2 linked regions of the Homo sapiens genome follow. The protein of the gene in region 1 binds, or shares a complex with, the protein of each later gene. Each region holds a gene or a part of one and is shown on either strand. Other genes may lie near its edges.

The links. Proteins that work in one complex are often made in the same cells at the same time.
Region 2: the proteins of ITGB8 (region 1) and TGFB3 are in contact, whole or in part, in a cryo-EM structure (PDB 8VS6), measured with the Homo sapiens proteins. Residues at the interface, in NP_002205.1 of Homo sapiens: Ser156, Ala157, Ser158, Asn161, Arg206, Gln210, Cys211, Tyr214, Leu216, Ser247, Gly248, Asn249, Ile250, Asp251, Thr252, Glu254; in NP_001316868.1 of Homo sapiens: Gly262, Asp263, Leu264, Arg266, Leu267, Lys268.

What each region holds. Positions count from the first base shown.
Region 1 is NC_000007.14:20,326,246-20,334,043, reverse strand, and holds the start of ITGB8 (integrin beta-8 precursor), read right to left. Parts: upstream 3,145-7,798; 5' UTR 2,238-3,144; coding exon 2,111-2,237; intron 2,068-2,110; coding exon of another isoform or gene 2,021-2,067; intron 1-2,020. UniProt on the Homo sapiens protein: Integrin alpha-V:beta-8 (ITGAV:ITGB8) is a receptor for fibronectin. It recognizes the sequence R-G-D in its ligands.
Region 2 is NC_000014.9:75,957,961-75,965,352, forward strand, and holds the end of TGFB3 (transforming growth factor beta-3 proprotein isoform 1 preproprotein), read right to left. Parts: intron 5,528-7,392; coding exon 5,356-5,527; coding exon of another isoform or gene 5,352-5,355; exon of another isoform or gene 5,101-5,351; intron 3,117-5,100; coding exon 2,963-3,116; intron 1,386-2,962; coding exon 1,227-1,385; 3' UTR 137-1,226; downstream 1-136. UniProt on the Homo sapiens protein: Transforming growth factor beta-3 proprotein: Precursor of the Latency-associated peptide (LAP) and Transforming growth factor beta-3 (TGF-beta-3) chains, which constitute the regulatory and active subunit of TGF-beta-3, respectively.

The sequences.
Region 1 (7,798 bases):
GTCTCTTTTGTATGGCTTTATTGCCCTCAACATTCTCCTGGTGTAAACTACTGAGCAAGGAAACAAGATTTCCATTGTAACTGATACCTAAATTTCTATTCTGCTTTAAGCATCTAATTTGCACTGTAAAGACATATAATTTGAGACTTGTAGCTATATCACAAAAGTACAGCAGTTTATGCTGATCTCTAATTTTCTGAGTTATACTGGCTATAATTTACATTTTTTGCATGTTTTTAACTGCCATGCAAATCAGTATACATCAGAAACCTTTGTATATTGACAGAGACTGGGAAAAGGATGCCTTGTTCTGATTTCAGATAAGCATTCCCTTTTCAGGTCTGCAGGTGCAAGTAGGCCCATTCATAATATTTCCTTCAAATCAGTTTTAGACACTGGGTAGAAATGCAATGCTTTTTCACAAGAGCCTGACTAATGTTTATAAGCACAGTTAATGGTTTTTAAAAATGTACTTTAAATAGTAAATTTTAGAGGCAAGTAGGACTTTTTCCTTTGCCTGTACGTTGGGAACAAAATATACTGTGTTAACACAAATTTTGGTCATTTTACTAGTGTGTATGTGTGTTTACTAAATCTAGAAAAGCACTTTATTACTTATTGAAACAGGATGAAATTATGCTTAGCGGAAAATTTGCTGCAACAAATGCATGTTTCTTCCATTTAAGAGATAACTGATAATGAATGTTACTTTTTCCTTTGCCTTTTCACTATTTTGAAATCAACAAACAAGCCAAAAAATAACCACAAGATAAAGAGATTTACTCTAATTTCTCCATTTCAGATAACTGAGCAAATCTCCCTGAAACAAATATTAGAAAACTGTATATGCAACAATTTCCTAAAGATAGCTGGATGTTTCCATATATCTCTATATCTATATATATAAAACCTACTTATAAGGTTATGATTTGACTGTTTTAATTAGCTTCAGGCAAAACCTTGACACTTTAAAGTATAGGAGTAAATTTTAACCTACAAAACAATTACAACTATTAATTAAACTCTCCTTGAGCCCAAGAGGTCAGAGAAAGGCTCTAATATAATTTAAGGACTTGGTGACCAAACAGAGAAAAAGTGAAATTAAAAAAAAAAAAAAAGAAAGTATGACAAGAGTCACTGCATTAGCAAAAATAAATGTTGGGCCTATATTGAAAACCATTAAGAACTCATCCTAAACTCATGATTCGTCCTATTACTTAGTTGTGTAATTTTCCAACAATCCAATCTGGTATACCACCTTACATTTGATTTTGTTTCATAAATCAAAAGTCCTAAAACACCTTCTCATATGCTATTTGACTTGAACTTTCCTTTGTGATTTAGAGAAGGCAGGTATTATTAATAAACCTCGTTTTACAGATGAGGACAATGCATTTCGTAAAGAGTTAACCTCTCCACATTAAGGTAGCTCTTACACAAATGGTTTGCCTGGACAGAAAGCTGTTAATCCTGGTTCAGAGTTCTTTCTGCTTCTCTGTCTCAGAGATTGATCTCAGTGAGGGATCAATTAGATAGTATTTTTTTTTTTTAAGCCGAAAGGATGATGACTTAAAGCATTAATATCCCTCCAGTGTGGGTAATTCATTCAGATTGAGCACTAATGATAGCAGAAACTTGTATGCTGTCTTTTTCTGGACTCAAAAATTGAAGACTACTCCCATTATAACCAACTTATCTACAGCCTCGAGTTAAAGGCAAGTTAGTCCTTAGTGGACCCAAATGTTAGAAAGATAGGGAGAACATTGTGTACAGACGATGCCCTTAAGAATGGACCAGGGCCCCTAAATGACTTCTGTAAACAGGACACCCTCTTTTCCAAAATTCCTTTCTATTAGGGCTTCCTCAACACCTAGGAGTAACACAGAGTGTCTCCTCTGATAATTAGTCCTTGCTGTCGCTCCAGGGCAGAAATGCTTGACACCTGGCCTCTAGGCCATCTGTGCTGGAGGACGCTGCCCCGCACCCGCCCCCTTGAAGTTCTCTGATGACCGCAACTTACCTGGCCGGGATGCTCTGGCCGGGCAGCTCTTCGTGCCAGCCCAAGACCTTTGGGGAAGAGAAGAAAACAAAACAAAACAAAACAACTTACCACCTTGGCCCAGTCCAAGAACAAGTGAAAACACCCAGGCTGCCCAGAGGAACGAGGCGGGACCTCGCCGGTCGTTTTGCAGGCAGACAAATGCAGCGGTAAAAAAAGCCAGGGCCGAGCCGCACATAATGCAAAACAGCCCGCCCCGCGCCCGCCGCCTGACTGCCTTCCGGACGCGGGCTCGCGCCTCCCGGGCGCACCTCGGGGCCCGCGGGCCGAGTGTCGCTAGGACGTTTTCCGCAGGCCTAGCAGGCGGACCCCGCGGCTCGGAGCAAGCGGTGCAGGTAAGCGGGCCCGGGCACCGCTCGGCATCTCAGGGCCCCTGCGGCCCTCCCGGCTCGGCACGGCGGGTCCCGCGGTCTCCGCGAGAAGCACCTCCTTCGACGGCCAAGGGCCCCGGCGGCGACTGGAGAGAGGGCTCTGCAAGGGCTCCGCAGCCTGCTCCGGGACAAAGAAAAGAGCTTTTGTTTCTCTCCAGCCGGTGGGGCTTCTGCTGCATAAATCAGCTTAGCGAAGAGCCAAACACAATCAAACCCAAACAAAGCCCGAAGCTGGGGGGGAAACCACCCTAATGTACATTCACTGGGTGATGCTGGATCTGTGGGAGGGGACGCCGGCGAGGTCGAGGGGAAAAAAGTCTGTGGCGCATCAATCAGCGCAGTTGCTTCCACAGGTGGGCAGGGAGGCCAACACCATTAGTTGCAGCTTTGCAGCCCCGTCTGCGGAGCAGCGGGCAAAGACAAGTCGGCAGCGTCCTGGCTGGCAAGGGAGGAAGCTCGGGATGCCAGCAACAGGGGGAGGCGGCTCTGGGAGCGCCCTAGAAGCACCCGCCGACACCCGCAGGCACAGAGCGAGGCATCGCCGCTCCCTCCCTGGCGGGGAGTGGGGCCTGCGGCTGCGAGCGCAGGAGGGGAGGTTCCGCGAGGTGCCGGAGCCCGGCTTCGCGGGGCGGGGGCTGCGTGCCCTTGTCCTTTTCGCCTCAGTGCGCGGCTCAGGCGTCCCGCAGTCCAGAGCCCGAGTTGCTGGCGCGCTCTGGGGTGCACACGGCTAGGATGCGAGAGAGGCGAGGCCGGCGATGGGCGGGAGAGGGGTGGTCCTGCTCTGGCCCCCCGGGGGGCTCCAGACCTGCGGGTAGCCGGGTGCACTCAGGGCAGAGAGTTGCTAGGAAACCTCCCCACGCTACCGGAGCGCCTCGCCTCGGCTGCCCGCAGGCGCGGCTGCAGCCCGGGCAGGAGCAGCAGTAACAGCTCGGAGCAGCGTGGGCGGGACATTGGTGAGGCATGAAGTCACCGCGGCCCACACTCGCTCTTTGTTTTGCTCACTCCAGCTCTTTCTTTTCCCCCTTGGCTCTGATAGTTGCCATTCCCATCGTTCACAAGAACTCCTGAAGCGTAGCCGCGCAACAGGAATGGCACGCCTCGTTCCCTTCTCCCTCCTCCCCCGAATCCTTGCACCCCAACGCTCGCGGGGGTGGTGGGAGACTCGCTCAGCGCCAGCGGCAGCTGCGAGCAAACCCCAATCTCTCACCCCCGCGCTGCTCGCCGCTTTGTTCGGAGATACTCACTGCCCCGCAGCTGCTGCATACAAAGTGGAGTCAAGGGACCTCCCCTGCCCCCAACGCCCTCTACTCAGCACTTTGCTTGCAGTTAGGAGCTCGTCCTCTACCCCACCACAAGGCTGCCCCGGTGTCCCTAGCCTTTGGAGAGTTGGACCAGTCTGCAGGGGCTGTTCCCGGAGCGACTGGCCGAGATTTCTCGCTGCTCCTTCTCTGCTCAAAACCTTAACCCTGGACTGGACAGCCCTGTTTTTCCCCAGCGTCTGGTGGTGGCTCTGGGCTTTTGCAAGTTACAGTGGGTCTTTTGATCTTAAGCGTCACCTTCCCAGTAAACGGAACAAAAAGTTACAGACAGCAGCAAAGCGGGGAGAGGGGAGCTAAGGAGAGAAAGTGGAAGGCACTTCTGCCTGCTTGCAGCTCAGAAATTTAGGTGCAAGTAGGGTGCGGGTGTTATGCTGGGCAACTGCCCGGAAGCAGCGCGCCTCCTCGGGTCCTGTCATTACCACGCTAAGTCGAGGGAGGGAACTCAGTCCCCCGCATTGGAAACAAGGCAGTGTTTCCAGTTTAACACGGTGATGGTTCTCTTTTCCCTCTAGGGGCAGGAGCGATTCCCATTCGAGGAGTTTGACCTCTCATTTTAATACAACACCCGCCTCTTAGAGGCAGCAGACCAGTCCAGCCAGGTCAAGGTGAAATATGCGGGAGTTTCCCCCCTTCTTATTTAATAGTTTCCGTCTCCTTATTTGTAGTTAAAAAAAAAAAAAAAAAAAAAGTAGGAGGCGCGGTCTCTCTCTTTCTTTCTGTTGACTGAGTGAATGGAAAGTACCTGGTTAATAAACCACAACATCGAAACTCCCCCTTTCAGGTGTGGACCGCACAACGGGGTGCACAGGATTAGTTAAGCAAAGCAGGAACCCAGCTGGAAAATTAAACGAGCCCTGGATCTGCAAAGCAGGTCCCTTCGCGAGACCAAAGCCGTGATCCCAACCTTAGCAACATAATTCTACTGGAGGTGATGTACTCTAAATAAATAGAAATAAATCCAGCTCCGCTTTAATATTTATTTCCTTTCCTTAGTTCCAAGTTTGAACAGTTATAGTTTTGTTTTTTGGTTGTCTTAAAGGAAAGGCCTAAAAATTAGTTAGGATGGGTGTGAGGACTTGAAAATTTGAACACAAAAATATCATATTCAATATCTGATTAGTGACTCTTCCATTGGGCAGCCTGGGTATTTTCCAGGGGTTATGTCACAGACCTACTGAATGCAGCCACCCTTGAGACATGCAGTGCTTCAATCAAAAAAAAAAAAAATTAAATCCCTAATTCCCATAAGGACATGTCAATACACTTTAAAGTGTCTATCATATCACCATTCCATAATATTCTAAAATACAACTCTTTGTTGCTGGGTTGTAAGTGGCAGTTACAGTAATAAATAAAATATAAATGTATGCAAACAAGAAAGGATGTAACTTTATGAAATTGATGAGGTATGCACTAATTTTTGTAACTCTGTTTTTAGGTGTTGATATATATACTAATCCAGAACAACCATGTAGCAAGAGGAATAAAATGAAGTTCAGAAGTCTGTTTCGGGAAATTTTGAAGCCCTTTAGAAAGAAAGATTTCTACATTTTGTTACATGAAATTCATGCAAATATATGTCAGGTGCCAGTGCTATGGAGTTGTTGAAGAATAAGCACAATACCATTTATTACCACTTCTCAGTTGTAAAGAGGCTGTAACTCTGGTTGTCGAAATAAAATAAAATGAAATCTCCTAGATGTGACACTGTGACCCCTGCCAGTTATTTACAAACAAGTTATCTGCACATTTTGGGCTGTAAACATAAAAGTAAACTCTCTGAAAGACTGCAAATCATCTTTAGGGTTTTCTTAAAGTAAATACAACTAGTGGCCCAGGAACCAAAAGTTTGCTTGTTTCCAGTTAATGTCACTGGTCACCATAACTCACCCTTTTTCCTATGAGGAAATGTACAGCATATTTTAAAGAAATGCAGTATTGTTATCTTCGTCATATTACCTGAAGAATTCTAATAAAGGAAAAATGTTTCGGAAGATGGTGACTTGATTAATTTGTTTTTCCATCATGTTCTGCTATATTGCTTTGAAATTTCTGACAGCTAATTTTTCATCATTTGTGGTAATGAGAGGAAATGAAATTCACAGATAGTCTAAAAATAACATTTTAGTTATTCATTCCAGGCTTCCTATCATTAGAGTCTTTGAGCTGAGTTACTAAAAAGTCATAAAATTAAATTACTTAAATTTCTTCCCTACTCCTTTAACCTTGATTTCTCACTAAGTGAGTTTATGGTGAGAATGAATAAGCTATAGATAGGTAGCAGGAGTGAGGGAGACACTCAGACTGTTTTTTAAGAAATGGAATCTTGCTATCTCACTATGTTGCCCAAACTGGCCTTGAACTCCTGGTTCAAGTTTGAACTCAAGCTATCCTCCCACCTCAGCCTTCTGTGTAGCTGGGATTATAGGTGTAAGACACCACATACAGCTGTGGCTATTCACACTTTAACTAGATGTGCCCAAATTATTGATCTCATAGTGGCACCTACAGACACATTTGAATTTTAATGTTACATCTTTTTGAAGTTGGGATCAGAGCCATTCAGTACGTTTTGGGTGGGTATTCACAAGTTATCTATAAGCTTGCCTGAGACATCTCAGAAGATGATTAATGGTCAGACCAGTGAGATATATTATTGTGACTATGACCTCTAGCTTCTTCTAATGATAAAGTACATAAATTGCTTGAAGGTATTTTTCACTGAATTGTTACATAAGACAGTGTTTCTCATACTGTAGACTGAAGACTGCATACAACACAATCCCCCATAGAGTAATTCTGAGTTCTAATTCCTTGTCTCTATTCCAGGAGATTCTGAATTAGTAGATCTTGTATGGTGCTCAGCAATCTGCATTATACCAAGGTCCTCAAATGGTTTTTATATGCTCTGAAGTTTAAGAACTTCCTACTTTAATGGGTTAATACAGAGACTCCTTAAAGGCCTCATGAGTGTTTAATAACAGAGATCAGTGTCAGGTGCAAATTCAAAGAAAAATGAACTGCTGGAGCCAGTGTCTCTTGCCAAGATAGTTTATGGATGACTCAATCTGTGAGATATTAATGTTTTCTGAAACAAGACTTCCATGATTAAGCTTGGGAAATGCTGAATTAAAGTCAAATTAAATCCCTTACTAGAGGAATTTCCGGAAACTCAATAGAGCAGCATGCCATTAGATTCTCCAAAGGAAGAAACCTGTATGAGAGAACATCTCACAGATTAATTTTCCTCGAAGCATGCTACAGAGCTAGCCCCATTTTACAAATGTGGAAACTGAGACAAAGACTGGCAAAGAAACCAACCTCACTTTTTCAAGGGAATTCATGAGCAGGCAGAAATCAGAGCTCTGATTCTCCTCAATTATCTCATATTGTGATGACTTCTAGTTTCAAGTAAAGAGTCAGATTATGGCTGTTCTAAGTAAAAAAGGAAACTATTGGCTGGGTGTGGTGGCTCACACCTGTAATCCCAGCACTTTGGGAGGCCAAGGCAGGAGAATCACCTGAGGTCAGGAGTTCGAGACCAGCCTGGCCAACATGGCAAAACCCGTCTCTACTAAAAATGTAAAATTAGCCTGGCATGGTGGCACACACATGTAGCCCCAGCTATGTGAGAGGCTGAGGCATGAGAATTGCTTAAACCCTGGAGGTGGAGGTTGCGATGAGCTGAAATTACATCACTGTACTCCAGCCTGGGTAACAGAATGACACACAGTCTCAAAAAAAAAAAAAAAAAGGAAATTCTTGAAAGAAAATTGGGAGCCCACAGAATCACAGAATCAGCAGGAAGCTGGGAGACTACGACTAACCAAGGCCAGAAAACACGGAGGCATAAGCAGTAGCAGGAAGTGTCTAACTCTTAAGAACAACTTTGAATCCTCCCTTTGCTTTGGATCACTTGCTCAAGATTCAAAATCCTTGTTGGGAATATCTAGTTTTCAGAATTTTCATCATATGTTAGTACACTGGCTTTCTGGGTGTGGGAAAAGGAGAGAAGGGGCTCTCATCTTCAGCTTTCTTGGTAGAAAATA
Region 2 (7,392 bases), on another chromosome or scaffold:
CCCTGTGTAAGGGGAGTTGCGCTAAGCAATGTGTTTGGTGATTGACAGATTCTCTGCCCCAGATTCTGGTTACCTCTGATTAGTAGATGCGGACATGGAATTAAGGGTAATTGAAGGATATTTATCGAGTCAGACATACACCTTAGAATAAGGCTTTTACTGTTCTAGAAACAATATTCCAGAAGATGAAATCATCCAGGATGCCCCAAAAATATTTATTTATACAAAGATTTTGAGAGTAATATTCATACTTGTCTTTATACCTCAGTCTATGCGTCTGGGGCCAAGTCACTGTGTGGCACATGTGCAGCTTCCCCGAATGCCTCACATGTTGTAGCACCTGCTTCCAGGAACACCAAATGAACACAGGGTCTTGGAGGGGAAGTGGGGGAAGAACCCATAATGCCCCAAGGCTGCATGGAACCACAATCCAGAAATGTGCATCCTGACCTGGAAGGCGTCTAACCAAGTGTCCAAGGGGAAATATGATCGAGGGAGAGGTGAGAGGAGGGACCCAGAGGGCAGACAGGAGAGGGTTGATTTCCACCCTTTCTTCTGCGTTCAGCATATCCAAAAGGCCCAATACAGTTGATGGGCCAGGAACTGCATGACCTGGATTTTCTCCCTGTAGTGACCCACGATGTTAATTGATGTAGAGGACAGTTTGCAAAAGTAATAGATTTGCCCTTAATCCCAGACAGTATGAGATACAATTCTGGGACTTTGTCTTCGTAACCTGTCTTTAAAAAAAAAAAAAAAATGCTTGCCTTGTATAACATAATCCAGATTCCCTAGAGCAGATGTGGTACAGCAATGAGCAAATCCAACCTCAGATCTGAAGTGTCTTCCAGTCTGGCCCTGACCCAGCCATTCTCTGCCCTTCCTTCTCCCTTTAGGGTAGCCCAAATCCCATTGCCACACAACATCTCAACTTACCATCCCTTTCCTCTATCCCCATCCCCTCTGTCTGCGTCACAGAAAGTCTGTGTGTTCTGAAGAGTTCAGCCTTCCTCTAACCAAACCCACACTTTCTTTACCACCGTGATTCTCAGAGCCAGCAAGAAAGAAATGTTCCAAAAGGAAACCTCCATCTCAGCCATTTGCCCGGAGCCGAAGGTTGTGGGCTCCAGGCCTCTCAGTGAGGTTTGTTGCTTGTGTGTTTCCCGAGGAGCGGGCAGTCAGGCAGTGGTGGTTCTCTCTCCCCTCTCTCTGTCGCACGTGGGGTCTCAGCTACATTTACAAGACTTCACCACCATGTTGGAGAGCTGCTCCACTTTGGGGGTCCTCCCAACATAGTACAGGATGGTCAGGGGCTCCAGGTCCTGGGGCACGCAGCAAGGCGAGGCAGATGCTTCAGGGTTCAGAGTGTTGTACAGTCCCAGCACCTGGGAAGGGACATGTCAGTGAGAGGTTGGAAGGCCAAGTCTCAGGCCTGGAACCCAGGAAGTCGCCCAGTTCCAGGGGCAGTCCCAGAAGCTGAGCAAGTGCTAGAATGGCCACGGGTGCTCTTTAAGAGGAACTGTTGGGGGCCGGGTGCAGTGGCTCACAGCTGTAGTCCCAGGACTTGGGAGGCAGAGGCAGGCAGATCACTTCAGGTCAGGAGTTTGAGACCAGCCTGGCCAGCATGGTGAAACCCCATCTCTACTAAAAATACAAAAAAATTAGCTGGCTGTGGTGGCAGGCGCCTGTAATCCCAGCTACTTGGGAGGCTGAGGTGGGAGGATCACCTGAATCCAGGAAGCAGAGGTTGCAGTAAGCAGAAATAGTGCCACCGCACTCCAGCCTGAGCCACAGAGTGAGTCTGTCTCAAAAAAAAGAAAAAAAAAAAAACTGTTGGAACCTGGTTTGGGTGAGTGAGTAGTTGTGTAGTTGCTGTTCATCCACAATGACAGAAGCAGAACAACTGCACTTGTTTGGGGTGATGAGTTGAAGCATATGACAGTTACTACACTGATAACGAATTATCTTGGCTTTTTTTTTTTTTTTTTTTTTTTTTTTTTGAGTCAGAGTCTCACTCTTTCACCCAGGCTGAAGTGCAGTGGTGCAATCTTGGCTCACTGCAACTTCCGCCTCCTGGGTTCAAGCGATTCTCCTGCCTCAGCCTCCCAAGTAGCTGGGATTACAAGCGCGTGCCACCACACCCGGCTAATTTTTTACATTTTTGGTAGAGACAGGGTTTCACCATGTTGGCCAGGCTGGTCTCGAACTCCTGACCTTGTGATCCACCCGCCTTGGCCTCCCAGAGTGCTGGGATTACAGGCGTGAGCCACCGTGCCCGGCCTATCTTGGCTTTTAAGAAAACACTTACATTGCTCTTCCTAGCTGGAACTGATCACTTCGGTGAGAAATGTTCTCACAAAACATTGCCTTGAGCCATTTAGTAAGTGCAGCGTGCAGGGCCCCAGACAGGATGCAGAAACAATGAGCTAGAAGGAAACATGCTTCACAAATTACTGCCCTATTTTTGATTCCCCTCAAGGGAAAGACAGACTAGTTTCAGGGGTTGTGGACTCTCGGCTATCTCACTTTCTGTTCCTAGCATTTCAAATTAGCTTCTTGTCCATCCTTGTTGTTGTCTTTCAGAGTAAGTTTTCTACATTCGAGAGGCTGGAATGATCAGAGTTCTGATAGAAGCCTTTCTACTTCAGTGTTCCTTGCCAGCCACATGCACATATCTCTGACATAGGGTAACACGTGGCAGTTAATTAATTTCTACGGTACAGAGAGCTTTGGACAAAGCAAATTAAAAAGCTGGTTGAAACTATGGTAGGAATTTAAAAGGGCAGAATGTGACTGAGTAGAACTGAGTCAGGGTGCCAAGATCAGAACCTTCACCAGAGGAATTTTACTCACCCCAGACCATCATTTGCTCACTCAACATTCAATCCTTCACTCATTCTTTTTAACAAGTGGTCTGGTCGGTCAGCCCCAGTGCCTCAGATGGCATGAGCCTGCTCCATACCGTGCTGTGGGTTGTGTCTGCACTGCGGAGGTATGGGCAAGGGCCTGAGCAGAAGTTGGCATAGTAGCCCTTAGGTTCATGGACCCACTTCCAGCCCAGATCCTGTCGGAAGTCAATGTAGAGGGGGCGCACACAGCAGTTCTCCTCCAAGTTGCTACAACAAAAAACATTTATAGAAAATCAACTTAAAACCACCAATAAAAGAAACTTCATGAATGCTCTCATATTCTCCCTTGGAGTCCTTTCATGCCATCATAGGTGGCTCTGATCAATGGAATCCCAGGTTCAAGGGCATGGGGCAGAAGAAACCAGAAAGGCACATTCATGTGTTAAAGACCAGGATCCCAAGGATGTAAGAAACAGAGATAAATGCTGCATGAGGAAGAGTAAAGAGGCAAAGGTGGCCCTGCACCCTTTTCTATCACAATACAAAGCAGTGCTATGAAGCGCTCCACATAAAACCAAGCACTGAATGTTATTAGCCAACTCAGCTTTGTTGAGGTTGGTTTTATTTTTACCCTCCTAATGTGCACCCAGACAGAAATCAATTCTAAGTTTATGCAGCTTGACTACTATAGTAGGTGACTGCTGAGACTCAATCCAAAGGCCATTTAGCCAAATAAGGCATATCCTTCTATTAGAACCGTGGTTCAACAGATCACCCAAATGTGATTATCAGGCCCCTTCAATTCTGTTGCCTACAGAGATCATTTGGCAATAATACCGCTTGCCAAGTGGACAGCTAGCCTCTGCTTTAATATCTGCTGAGACTTAGAACTTGCTACTTCCAAAGGCAGCTATTAGCCAAAATCTGGCTTCTTGTGGGTTCCAAGGGTGAACCATGGCAGACACCATTGGTTATCTATTCAATAACCATTCCTAACTCCCTTCTCCCTTGTGACATCCCATTACAGAGTCGAAAACACCAGATGCTCCTTTTCCTGTCCTCCCTTGAGAGTAGCGGTGGTCATGTGACCCAGTAATGACCCATCAGACAAGGAGAAGTATGCAGGGGGTAAGGGCAAGTTCTGGCAAAGATATTCGATTATTTATAAAAGTGACAGATGGAAGAAGAAAGCTTCTGGCTCTTCCCCTTCCCTCATTCCTTCTTGTCTTAAATGTGGACAAGGTGCCTGAAGCCCTAGCAATCACTTGTGACCATAAGGAAAAGGATGAAAAGCCAACATACTAAGCATGGCAGACTGGAAAGAGAGAAAGCCTGAGTCTTCGGTGGCATCATTAAGCAGCCAGCCCACCCTAACCCTGCTGCTACAGGCCTCTTGTGAACAAGAAATCACTATGATTAAAGTCACTGGCCAAGATCATTCGTTCCTAACTGATTCGTTCCTAACTGATAACTGATTCGTTCCTAACTGATTTGTTCCTAACTGATGGAATAAATAAATCTACATGCCAGCCTTTGTGGCAACTACCTTGCCTCTCCTATACCTTGCTGTTGAGCTGTTCCCCCAACTGAACATCCCTAGTTTCCCAAGCCCAACCATCCTCATAAGACATGGTTTCCAGATCTAAATATTTCCCAATTCGTTCTCCCCAGCTTCATTTCGGCATCCTCTGAGGCCAGATGGACTCACTCACTCATGCTCCTTCCTTTACCTGCAGTGCTTCCCCTCCTGGATCCCTTCATCCCCAAACCTCATCCTTGAAGCCTCTGCTCAAATTCCACACCCTTCTGAAGCCTTTCCTGTGTCCATAGGTGAACTCATTGCTCCCAGTTAAAGCACTTAATCCTTCGGACCCTCTCATGGGCGTGATCATCTTCTCCCTTTTAGTAGTTGGCATGCATACTTTATCCTCCCTTTATAAATGAGCAGTGAAACTGCTCCTGAGTAAGAGAAGCTGGGTCTTTTCTATCTCTCTATTGTGGCTACCCAGTAATTTCTGAATTCATTTGTTAATTTCTCTAGCTCCAACTTTCCGTTCAAATGGAGACCATTCTATTTGCCTCCATCCAGTAGCATCCTTGGACCCTTCATAGGGAACTAACTGAGCACTTCTTTAATGGAAACTCCTACATTAATCTCACACATACACTCTACAAGTGCTTAAAACATGGAAATCATGGAGAGGCTTTGACCAAGCCTCTCCAATCCAAACTATTTTAGCAACACTCCTCCTCACAGAGTTTTCCTCATTTACTTCAGCCAGCTCCTTCCAGAGTTAGCCTATGGAAAAACAGTGGGACTCCCAGGAAAACAGAAAGAGATTTCACAGAGAAAATCTCTGTGAGAGATTTTCAGTCTTCTTCCTGGAGATGTTTGTGAATAGCATCAGGGACCCTCTGTTGAGTGTGGCTTGGCTCTGGGGCCTGACCTAGCCATTGGGCAGTAGGCAGGCAGTAGATGTTGGTTCCCATGTGGGCCCAGTCTCACCGGAAGCAGTAATTGGTGTCCAAAGCCCGCTTCTTCCTCTGACCCCCCTGGCCCGGGTTGTCGAGCCGGTGTGGGGGAATCATCATGAGGATTAGATGAGGGTTGTGGTGATCCTTCTGCTTCTTGAGGCGCCCCAGATCTCCACGGCCATGGTCATCCTCATTGTCCACGCCTGAAGAAGGGAAGGAAAGTGACAATCTCCTGTCTGAAGAGAGCAGAGCCCTTGGAGGCTGCCTCCTCCACACGCCCCATCACTGCCCAGGAGGAGGGGCAGTGCAGTCTGCGAGGGAGGTGTGGGGGACAAGTGCAGCTTAATTCTGATGTCCAGGTGCAGAAAGGGGAAGAGCAGATGGAGAAGCCAGTATCAAAAGAACTCATTATTATTGTAAGGATGCCCACTGAAAGATGCCCCGTGTTCAGATCCCCATACCCTTGTATAGAAATCTTCCAAGGGGCAGAAAGCCCTTGCTGAGATTCCTAGGAATCTTCATGGACCTATGAAGCATCCCTGTTACTAAGTGGGTACCTAACACATATCTCCGGGTTGTCGGCTTGTTTATTTGTTTGTTTGTTTGTTTTGAGACAGAGTCTCGCTCTGTTGGCCAGGCTGGAGTGCAGTGGCCCCATCTTGGCTCACTGCAACCTCTGCCTCCGGGGTTCAAGAGATTCTCCTGCCTCAGCCTCCCAAGTAGCTGGGATTACAGGTGCATGCCACCATGCCCAGCTATTTTTGTATTTTTAGTAGAGACAGGGTTTCACCATGTTGGCCAGGCTGGTCTCGAACTCCTGACCTCAAGTGATCCGCCCACCTCGGCCTCCCAGAGTGCTAAGATTACAGGTGTGAGCCACTGCACCCAGCCCTGGATTGTCACTTTAGATTCTAGACTTAGAATCTTGGGGTGTGAGTTTCCTCTTAAAATGTGAATGGACCAAGATAACGCAGAAGTCCTACCAAAAATTTAAGGTGTCACAACTTAAGATAGCCTGAATGGGAGCCAAAGAAACAAGACTGTATAATTGTTAACATTCACATTGCACTTAGAGTCTTTGAAGTGTTTTCACTATAAAATTCAGATGAGATAATGAAGCATATGATAAATAGCAAATAAGCTCTGGAAAGAAAATCTAAATTCATCAACCCGTTTCATCTGAAAAAAAAGGAAAAGACTGGAGACTGACTTAGAAAGAGTCTCAACTAAATGGAGATCGATTTTGCGAAGGACAGCTGCCAACTGTTGTCCATCCTCACTGAGGACAGGAACATGAGGAATTAATTTACATAGCTACAGGAGTGGCTCGGGTCTCAGGAAGGGGCACCAGATCTGTAAGATAAATGAGAGACCTGGATCACAAATCCCTTTTTCTGAAAATCTTTATGAACAAGATAAGTATTCACTGAAATGGGAAGGTTTCATCCTAAGCTGGCCTGTAGGTAAGGACTCCAAAGGTCCTCTGGGCTCTAAGGTTCTGTGGTTACAGTGTCAAATCTTTGGCTTTAAGAAAAGGCTGTAAAATAGAGCCCATGTGGGGTAAGATCACTGTCCAGCGCTGAGCCAAAAGAGGCCTGCACCTTTTCCCAGACAAGCCTCTGACCTCAGGCGTTCCGCAGTTACCCAAAATGGGAATATGAAAGGAAAAGAGAACTTCCCTGAACTCCAGAGATCATCAAGGCTGAGTTCCTTGCAAACATAATGGAAAACCAGAAATGACTCTCAACGACTTCGCCATCTCTACCCAAACACCCCGGGGACAAACACCCTGAGGCTCGAAGCAATCATCCAAACCCAGAGGACCCCTGGGCAAGGTCAGGTAGGCCCTGCACATCTGGAAAGCTCAGTTGTCTGGGCACTCATGTTCAGGACAGCCAAACTTAATTTCTTTTAGGGAGGAGGAAGACAAGTCCTATCTGTTGAGCATTTCTGGCACTGTGTTCCTTATTCATTATCTCATTTAATTGCCTGACAACACTGTGAAAGAGGAACTCTCATCCCATTTCACTAGGACCAGAGGCTAGATGGCTTGCCTACACAGTTTCAC